Linked DNA regions of Homo sapiens: region 1 is linked to region 2. The links come from fine-mapping of genetic effects on gene expression. A gene starts in region 2. The other region holds a variant in brackets. All regions are shown on one strand. Distances are between the middles of the regions. Region 1 has its middle 27 kb from the start of LAS1L. Region 2 holds the start of LAS1L (LAS1 like ribosome biogenesis factor).

What was found.
Region 1: its variant is fine-mapped to the expression of LAS1L in lung (TOPMed, PIP 0.91).

What each region holds. Positions count from the first base shown.
Region 1 is chrX:65,558,931-65,564,311 of GRCh38, forward strand. No RefSeq gene overlaps it. Among named protein-coding and RNA genes, the nearest start is that of LAS1L, 27 kb to the left of the region's middle. The variant C/T (reference allele first, on the strand shown) is at 2,059.
Region 2 is chrX:65,532,627-65,537,995 of GRCh38, forward strand. It overlaps LAS1L (LAS1 like ribosome biogenesis factor), which reads right to left and starts at 2,161. Exons shown (of 14, transcript NM_031206.7): 1 at 1,854-2,161; 2 at 984-1,109; 3 at 1-4. The coding sequence starts at 2,089. RefSeq lists an enhancer at 2,256-2,435.

The DNA of each region.
Region 1 (5,381 bases), 26 kb after region 2:
GCAATGATGAGCATCTTTATCAGTAATTCATCTTTCTTACTGTCTACTTACTGTTCATGCCCTTTCCCCATTTTGTATTGTTATTCATCTTAATCTGACTGATTTATATGATCTTTTTGTTATTGAGAAAAGTAGCCCCTCTCTTACTTGTTTTATGTATTATAAAATCTGATACCACTTTGTTGTTAGTGTTTTGACTTTGTCATATATATTTTTGTGATGCAAAAGTTTTAAATATTATGTGAAATGCATCAATATTTTCTTGTATGGCTTTTGGATTTTGTATGACATTTAGAGTTTCTTCACTTAAAGGTTATACAATCTTCTTATACATTCATTAGTCTCTTTCTTTCTTAGCATTTAAATCTTAGATCCATCTGGAATTTTCCCTATTTTATAGTTAACATTTCAAGCTTAGCACCCCTAAATATGCTTATTTCCCTCAGACTAGTGCTTTTCAAATATTTCCACAAAAGGATATCTCAGAGGAGAGGAGTGTCCTTGAAACCCTGGGGATCTGGAGAGATTTGGTGCCAGCCACAGGATCAACATTTTTTTTTCTTTGAGACAGAGTCTTGCTCTGTTGCCCAGGCTGGAGTGCAGTGGCATGATCTCAGCTCACTGAAACCTCTGCCTCCCTGGTTCGAGCGATTCCCCTGCCTCAGCCTCTCGAGCAGCTGGGATTACAGGCACCCACCACCACACCCAGCTAATTTTTGTATTCTTAGTAGAGAAGGAGTTTCACCATGTTGGCCAGGCTGGTCTCGAACTCCTGACCTCAAGTGTTCCACCTGCCTTAGCTTCCCAAAGTGCTGGGATTACAGGCTTGAGCCACCCCGACCGGCCAAGATAAGGAATCTTTAAAAAAAAAAAAAAAATATATATATATATATATATATATATATATATATATATATATATATATATTTGCTCTTGTTACATATTAAAGAATTCCTTAATATGACTAAAAAATCAGTTTTTAAATTTCCCTGGCATAAAACAATCTATGAAGACCGTTTAATAAATTGATGTTTTAGCCAGATGCAGTGGCTCATGCCTGTCATCCCAGCAACTTAGGAGGCTGAGGCAGGAGGTTTGCTTGAGCCCAGGAGTTCTAGACCAGCCCGGGCAACATATGGAAAACTTGTCTCTACAAAAATAAAATAAAATAAAAAATAGCCAGGTGTGGTGGTGCACACCTGCAGTCCTAGCTATTCAGTAGGCTGAGGTGGGAGGACTGCTTAAGCCCAGGATTTTGAGGCTGCAGTGAGCTATGATTGCTCCACTGCACTCCATCCAGCCTGAGCAATAGAGCAAGACCCTGTCTCAAAAAAAAAAAAAAAAAAGAAAGAAAAGAAAAGAAGTTGATGCTTTTATTAACATCAGTAATTTGTGGGGACTGCATGAGAAATTTTCGTTGAAGGTGCCAAGGCCCAGAAACTTCCTTGCAAATCCGTAACTATCAGCCCCTAAGACTGAATTCTTTCAGCTTCTCTCTGAAACCTATCTTTGAGTCAGACTGCTGCCTTAATTAACTTTTTAACTTCCTTTGCTAGACCTTCTAGAAAATTAATTCTTCCTCCTTAATTCTCTTTAGAACTAGCCACTTTCAAAGAGTTGCTCCTGAAATATACAATACATTGTTGTTAACTATCAATTTTAAAAAGTTGCTTCTGACAATAAGCATAGAATTCCATCAATCTCAGGATACACCTGAAGCTTTTCTAAAATAGTTTATCACCAGGCACGGTGGCTCATGCCTGTAATCCCAGCACTTTGGGAGGCTGAGGCAGGTGGGTCACCTGAGGTCAGGAGTTGGAGACCAGCCTGACCAACATGGTGAAACCCCGTCTCTACTAAAAATACAAAATTAGCCAGGCGTGGTGGAGCATGCCTGTAATCCCAGCTACTCAGGAGGCTGAGGCAGGAATATTGCTTGAACCCAGGAGGGAGAGGTTGCAGTGAGCTGAAATCATGCTATTGTACTCCAGCCTTCAGGCAACAAGAGTGAAACTTCATCTCAAAAAAAAAAAATCTTTAAGTCATTTTGTCTGGGTG[C/T]GGTGGCTCACACCTGTAATCCCAGCACTTTGGGAGGCCGAGGGGGCTGGATCACCTGAGGTTAGGAGTTGAAGACCAGCCTGGCCAAGATGGCAAAACCCCGTCTCTACTAAAAACACAAAAATTAGCCAGGTGTGGTGATGGGCACCTGCAATCCCAGCTACTCAGGAGGCTGAGGCTGGAGAATCGCTTGAACCCAGGAGGCAGAGGTCTCAGTGAGCTTACATCACACCACTGCACTCCAGCCTAGGCGACAAGAGCAAAACTCCATCTCAAAAAATAAAATAAAATAAAATAAAATAAAATAAAATAAAATAAAATAAAAAGAATTTCTTTTGTGGGAAACAAACAAACACCTAGCTTTTTCATAGATTTTCCTAATCTAAGCTGAGGTTCATGTCTCCTGGGGGAAAATTAAACAAAACGAGGAACAGAAGGCTGAGTGAAGGATCCTGGCAGAAGTGGCAGTGAAGCTGGCCTCTTTGGGATCCAACTTTAATCACCCAAAGAAAGGCTACATGGTTGATAGGGCACATCTATGTTCCATCGCCTTGGAACACAGATATTCAGGGGGCATGGACTGGGATTAATCACAATCTAATTCCAATTTCAACTAGGCATAGAGAAGAATTTCTCTGGTAAATGTTTGAGAAAATAGAAATGGCACAGTAGCGCATGCCTGTAATCCCAGCAGTTTGGACAAGGCAGGAGGATTGCTTGAGTTCAGGAATTTGAGATCAGCCTGGGCAACACAATTAGACCTTATCTCTATTTTTTAAAAGTAATATTAATATGCCGGGCACGGTGGCTCATGCCTGTAAACCCAGCATTTTGGGAGGCTGAGGCGGGCGGATCACCTGAGGTCGGGAGTTCGAGACCAGCCTGACCAACATGGAGAAACCTCGTCTCTACTAAAAATACAAAATTATCCAGGCATGGTGGTGCATTCCTGTAATCCCAGCTACTTGGGAGGCTGAGGCAGGAGAATCACTTGAATCCGGAAGGCGGCAGTTTCGGTGAGCTGAGATCGTGCCATTGCACTCCAGCCTGGGCAACAAAAGCGAAAGTCCATCTCTAAATAAATAAATAAATAAATAAATAAATAAATAAATAGAGAAAATAGTAAGATTGATATCCATCTTCCTAGTCTTCAGGAGGATATTCCTCCCTTGCCTGTACACGCCTTTCCCCTACACATACACTCTGAGCTGAAGCATCTTATCCATCTGTCAGAGGCTGGTTCAAGTTGTAGGCTTGAAGGCTGGGATTTGAGTCTTGACCTAGGCGAAAACAAGGACCAGGGCCTGGCCAGGAAAGGATCAAAAGGATACTGTTCACAACAACCCTTCCTATGAGTAGTGGGCATTTTATCCAACAAAACCTGTTCATGTTCACATTTGTTTTGTTTTGTTTTGTTTTGTTTTTTTGAGATGGAGTCTTTCTTTGTCGCCCAGGCTGGAGTGCAGTGACGTGATCTCAATTCACTGCGACCTCCGCCTCCCAGCTTCAAGTGATTCTCCTGCCTCAGCCTCCCAGTAGCTAGGATTACAGGTGTGCACCACCATGTCTGGCTAATTTTTTTTTATTTTTAATAGAGATGGGGTTTCACCATGTTGGCCAGGCTGGTCTTGAACTCCTGACCTCAGGTGATCCGCTCGCCTCGGCCTCCCAAAGTGCTGGAATTACAGGCGTGTGTCACCATGGCTGGCCATGTTCATACTCTTTCTTCTTTTTTAATTTTCTTCTTCTTCTTATACTTTAAGTTCTGGAGTATATGTGCAGAACTTGCAGGTTTGTTACATAGGTATACATGTGCCATGGTGGTTTGCTGCACCCATCAACCTGTCATCTACATTAGGTATCTCTCCTAGTGCTATCCCTCCTCTAGCCCCCTACCCCCTGACAGGCCCCAGTGTGTGATGTTCCCCACCCTGTGTCCATGTGTTCTCATTGTTCAACTCCCACTTATGAGTGAGAACGTGAGGTGTTTGGTTTTATGTTCTTGTGTTAGTTTGGTAAGAATGATGGTTTCCAGCTTCATCCATGTCCCTGCAAAGGACTTGAACTCATCCTTTTTTATGGCTGCATAGTATTCCATGGTGTATGTGTGCCACATTTTCTTTATCTAGTCTATCATTGATGGACATTTGGGTTGGTTCCAAGTCTTTGCTATTGTGAACAGTGCCACAATAAACATACATGTGCATGTGTCTTTATAGTAGAATGATTCATAAACCTCTTGGTATATACTCAGTAATGGGATTGCTGGGTCAAATGGTATTTCTGTTTCTAGATCTTTGAGGAATCGCCACACTGTCTTCCACAATGTTTGAACTAACTTGCACTCCCACCAGCAGTGTAAAAGCATTCCTATTTCTCCACATCCTCTCCAGCATCTGTTGTTTCCTGACATTTTAATGATCCCCTTTCTAACTGGCATAAGATGATATCTCATTGTGATTTTGATTTACATTTCTCTAATGACCAGTGATGATGACCCTTTTTTTTCATGTTTGTTGGCTGTATAAATGTCTTCTTTTGCTGGGTGTGGTGGCTCACGCCTGTAATCCCAGCACTTTGGGAGCCTGAGGTGGGTGGATCACGAGGTCAGGAGTTCAAGACCAGCCTGGCCAAGATGCTGAAACCGCGTCTCTACTAAAAATACAAAAATTAGCCAGGCATGGTGGCAGGCACCTCTAATCCCCACTACTTGGGAGGCTGAGGTAGGAGAATCACTTGAACCCTGGGTGGGTGGAGGTTGCAGTGAGCCAAGATTGCACCACTGCATTCCAGCCTGGGTGACAGAGTGACACTCCATCTCAAAAAATAAATAAATAAAATAAAATAAAATAAAAATAAATGTCTTCTTTTGAGAAATGTCTGTTCATATCCTTCGCCCACTTTTTGTTGGGGTTGTTTGTTTTTTTTCTTGTAAATTTGTTTAAGTTCTTTGTAGATTCTGGATATTAGCCTTTGTCAGATGGATAGATTGCAAAAATTTTCTCCCATTCTGTAGGTTGCCTGTTCACTCTGATGATAGTTTCTTTTGCTGTGCAGAAGCTCTTTAGTTTAATTACATCCCATTTGTCAATTTTGGCTTTTGTTGCCATTGCTTTTGATGTTTTAGTCATGAAGTTTTTGTCCATGCCTGTGTCCTGAATGGTATTGCCTTGGATTTCTTCTAGGGTTTTTATGGTTTTAGGTCTTACATTTAAGTCTTTAATCCATCTTGAGTTAATTTTTGTATAAGGTGTAAAGAAGGGGTCCAGTTTCATTTTTCCGTATATGGCTTACCAGTTTTCCCAACACCATTTATTAAATAG
Region 2 (5,369 bases):
AAACCTGGAGTTGAGGGAGAAATAAGTGGCACAGCCCAAGGAACCATTTTATTCCAAACACTTTGCTGAGTTACTGAAACCCTGCATTTCCACTTTTCCACCGACTGTCCTGTCCTATTCCTACAGCTGGTGTGTCAGCCAGAGCAGGGACAGTTCCATCCATTCCAACATTTAATGAGAGTCTGCCCTATAATGAAGCCATACAGATGAATAAGACACTGCTCTAGCCTTGAACAGTTCGGTCTAGGATAAATAATAATGATACAATGTAACATATTAGGCTAGAACATAATATGTTATAAATGCTGCAAAGGACTACATCAGATAATGGGGAGCACAGCTAACCAATGGAGAAAATAAGAAGAGAAAGGGAGGATCTCAAGGCAGACAAGGGGAAATAGATAAGCAAAGACTTTGACAGATATGAAAACTCAGTAGCAACCTTTTTTTCCGACGTGTATACAGCTAGAACCATTATGAGTCACTTTGTAAGTCAGGAATTCCCAGCCCATGTCTCCACTTCCATAACTCAGCAATCTTTCAGTGTTCATGAGGGAGAGAAGGGGAAAAGGGTAGTGCTAGGAATAGACAGGGACAGGGTTGGAAAGTCCACATTAAATCACAGGCGAGGACCCTGAGCCATTCAGACAAGTTCCTCTGGGTGAGGAATTCAAAGGTAAGAAAAAATATCAGACCACCAAGAGACCCACAGAGATCACCTGGTCTGAATCCCTTCCTCCACATTCCAAGATAGAAAGAAAAATGGAAGAGAAGGCTTTCAGGAAAAAGGAAGAAAAAGAGGAATGCGTTGACGAGGGTACCAAAAGCTGATAAGTCAAGCAATAATCACAGGCTGATCCACAGTGAGGTACACGCAGGGTTTTGCTTCAGGTAACACCTGAAGCCAAGTTTTGCTTATCACATGCCTCCCCTGCCTCCAGTCCCCAAAGCCAACCTCCACCCCTACCCCATGCAGGTCTTACCTGACCAATGCCATGCCATAGAGCAGTCTAAGTTCATCAGTGCCCAAGCCACCAGTTACATCCAAGAGCTTACAGCGTATCAGGTCAGCAGTAGAAGCCACTGCCAGAGGGAGTTCGTTGCCTGACCTAAAGGGTCACAGTCCAGCACCATCATAAAGAGCCCTTACACTGGTCCACCCTCCACCTCAGAACCTAGGTTGTTGCAGGCTACACCCATCATATTCTGGTTCAAGAGAGCATGAACAGACACAAAACAAGAAGGTGGGAGGAGACACGGTAATGTCTGTGGGATCCAACAGTATACAGGGCATGAGGAGCTGACTAGGCCGTATACAGGACACCTAACTGGTAGACTGTCCATCAACAGTTGTGTGGACACACCCCTTTCTTTCACCCCCAAATCAACTCATTGAGCTAGAGGAGCCCCTTATCCCTTGTAAGTCGGCTCCCAACTCAATCTTACCAACTGGACTGAGGCGCCCCACTCAAACACTGTCTTGCAGGCAAGACTTCCTCCCCATTGGAATCGGAAATCTACCCTAGGGTACTAATCTACTCCTTAAGCCCTGGCTCAGGCCTCACTAGTCCCTCCGGCATCCTCTCCAAGTTGGGAGAAAGTCACTTTTTGGAGGTAATGGGTAAACCTCACAGATATAACAAGAGAATTGTTGAGGCACAACCCCTTACTTTCCATTCCGCTAACGGGATTAGCGCAAGAGATGGCTGCCGCGTTCCCCCAGGCATTTGGGAGAGGGACAACTTTAGGCGACTTAGGGGAAGACTGGAGAACAGGGCCTTATAGAAACTCGACAAAGGAAGAGGTGCAGCGCCACCAGCACGCAGGCAAAAGGGCCGAACCCGCCACCTTACCTGCTCCTCCACACCGTGATGCGGTTAAGCGCGTACCGCTGCAACTTATGGTCGTCACAGAACAGATAAACCGTCACCTGGTCCCACTCGGCCCTGCTGAGCCAGGCGACCACGATGCCGTGGGCCGAGAGTGGCAACGACCCTTTCCCTTTAACGCACTTTCCGTACCACGCACTCCACACGAGATCCATCCCCTGGGAACCTAGACCTGGCCCGGCCCCGGATTCCCACGACATACTGAGCTCAACAACAGGCTCTGTGCCGCGCCGCTCCGCACAGCCTTCAGCTCAGCGTGCTACCCTCACTCCGAACCGCCACCGCACCAGCAGCCAATAGGAGAGCGTGACCCCATACGCAAGCCCGCCTTCCAGCGTCAGCATGGCCAATCGGAACGTCAGAATTGGGCGCCGACCTAATGACATGCGGGGTTAAAAACTCACCGGCCGGAAGTGTTCTTTTCACAAAGCAAACCCTCCAGGGGCAAGAGTTCAGCCTCTAGGTTCCGCCAATTTCCTGGTTGCTAACCGGCTTCTGTACCAGACCGGAAGCGGTATGTCTTCACTGCAAGAGGAATTTTATTTTGCTCCCCTCGGCGGGTGGCAGCTTGATTGTAGTCATCCAGTGAACTGAAAATGCGATTTTAAGTATATTTTTATTGCCGTGAATCAGGACCTAACCTAGTAAAACACTGGACACTGAAGCAGGGCTACAGAGGAAATATCTCATATCGAAACAGTTACAGTTGGGTTGAAAAAATCTGCTTTTGTGGCAGGTAACCAGGGGCCCTGCCTTTTAAATTAGTACCAGCCTGGCCAGGCGTGGTGGCTCACGCCTGTAATCCCAGCACATTGGGAGGCCCAGGCGGGCGGATCACTTGAGGTCAGGAGTTCCAGACCAGCCTGGCCAAAATGGTGAAACCCGGTCTCTAGTAAAAATACAAAAATTAGCTAAGCATGGTTGCACATGCCTGTAATCCCAGTTACTCAGGAGGCTGAGGCACAAGAATCGCTTGAATCCGGGAGGCGGAGGCTGCAACAAGCCAAGATCGCACCAGTGCACTCCACCCTGGGTGACAGATCGAGACTCTGTCTCAAAAGTAAATTAAATAAATACATACATAAATAAATAAATAAATACCAGCCTAGAGACCTGAGTTTTACTCTAAATTTTGCCACTAACTATGTGGACTTAGACTAGTCTCAGTTTTCCCATCTGTACAGTGAGAGTTGTAGACTGGTCTCTAGGTTCTCTGTCATAGCAGAAAATTGTAGAATTTTACTCTGCCAACATTCCACTGCTATGTTGGTTTCAACATCCACCAAGGTATACTTAGTTTTTCTGCAAAATTCCTTGGTATTTTGGAGTTCTGGGAGAAAAGCGGTATTATGAAGTTCCTCCGATTTTACGAGTTGACTGAAATATGTTTAGGACTATGTCCCAATCCTTCTTGCAGAAGTTATTTTCCAATGTAACACTTGAGAGAGAGAGAGAGAGAACTGTTGCTAACGATCTTAACAGCATTGCTGTGAGTGGCACTTTTACGCTTCACAGCAACAAATCCCAATTCATCCTCTATATGTGCTTCTTTCTCCAGCCAACTTTTCCTAAGATATAGTCTGCCTATAGTTATTTTATTTTTCTTTTTTTCTTTTTCTTTTTTTTTTTGACATGGCGTCTGGCCCAGTCGCCCAGGCTGGAGTGCAGTGGCACAATTCTCGGCTCACTGCAACCTCTACCTCCAGGGTTCAAGTGATTCTCTTGCCTCAGCCTTCCAAGTAGCTGGGATTACAGGCGCCTGCCACTATGCTTGGCTAATTTTTGTATTGTTAGTAGAGACAGGGTTTCACCATGTTGGCCAGGCTGGTCTGGAACTCCTGACCTCAAGTGATCCACCAGCCCAGGCCTCCCAAAGTGCTAGGATTACAGGCATGAGCCACCGTGCCCGGCCTGCCTATGGTTCTTGACTGACAGTTACTCTGTCCCAAGTAGCCATGCCAACCAGTTGGCCAGGTGTCTGCCTGAAACCAGATACCCTTTTTCCTTCAGGATCATGACAGTGTGCTGGCAAAGAAGTCTGGGGAGTGGTTTCTATGACTCCTCAAGATACAGGCCAGTCAGAGGAGCTGCCAGATCTGCGGCAATCATTCACACACATTTTGGGGTTTATAGGCTAAAAATTTTGCATAGTCCTTTTCAGGCAAAGACCCCTATTTATCCCCATTCCATCCACATAAAGCTGAAGTTCTCTCTATTCCGTGTGTTCTAAGAAAACATGACCAAAGCATGTAACAAGAGCATTATGTCTAATATGTGGCAAATGGGGCCTGAGACCTATTGAGAATTAGGAATTAGTGGACGAAGTGTGTCAAATAGTGGTAATTTTGAAGAAGCACTGCGTTAGTTTCCTGTTGTTGCTATAGCAAATTACCACAAACTTGGTGGTTTAAAACAACAGACATTTATTTTCTCGTAGTTCTGGAGGCCAAAAGTTTGATAACAGTATCACTGAGCTGAAATCAAGGTACTGGTAGGTTCATGATTCCTCCAGCTGCTCTAGGGAAGAATACACTCCTTGTCTTTTCTAGTGGCTGCTAGCATTCCTTGGCTTGGAGCACATTATTCCAAACTTCAAGACCAGCATCTTCAAATCTCTCTCTGCTCCATCTTCCCCTCTGTGTTTGTAAAGTCTCCCCCAGCCTCCATTTTAAAAGGATACATGTGGTGGCAGAGTCCACTCAGATAATGCAGGCTAATTTCCACATCTCAAGATCTTTAATTACAATGAAGTCCAATGTTTTTCTTTCTTTTTTCTTTTTCTTTTAACCACATAAAGTAACATTCATAGGTTGTAGGGATTAGGATGTGAGTATCTTTTGGGGGACAATTGTTTCAGCTTACCACAGGGAATATGGATCTGTCCTGGCACATGCTCAAGAATCCTAAGAATCCCTAGGCTTGTGGTGACGTAGGACACTCCTAGCAGTGCCAGTGGGCACGAATTAAATAAAATCTCCAAGTCCAAGGCATTGTCTGTGAAATCCTGAAGTTAATCAAATGTATCTTCAAGCTACTGCTTCCCCTTCATTATTTCACCATTTCCCTCCCCCTCACTTCACCCCAACGTCCACTTTTGTGTATCTAGTTCACCTAGAGCAGTCCTGTGGCCCCGGCTAAGCAAACACCTATATGTTGATGTTCTTCAAGTCTCTAGCTGAGTTTTCTGTGGGACTCCAGACACATTTAATCAACTGTCTGCTGCACTCATGTGATCCCGCAGGCAACCCAATATCAACCTGTCTAAATCTTAAATACTTTCCCCCAAAATCTGTCCCTCCTCCTATATCATTCAATACATGGCAACAGTATTCACAGAGTCATCTGAACCTCAGTACCTGCACTCAGGTAGCTTGGGCTTGAATTGTGTCTTCACCACTTACTATTTGAAACCTTGAGCAAGTTACTTAACTTTTCTATGCCTCGTTTACTTCATCTGTAAACGGAAATAATAAGAGCACT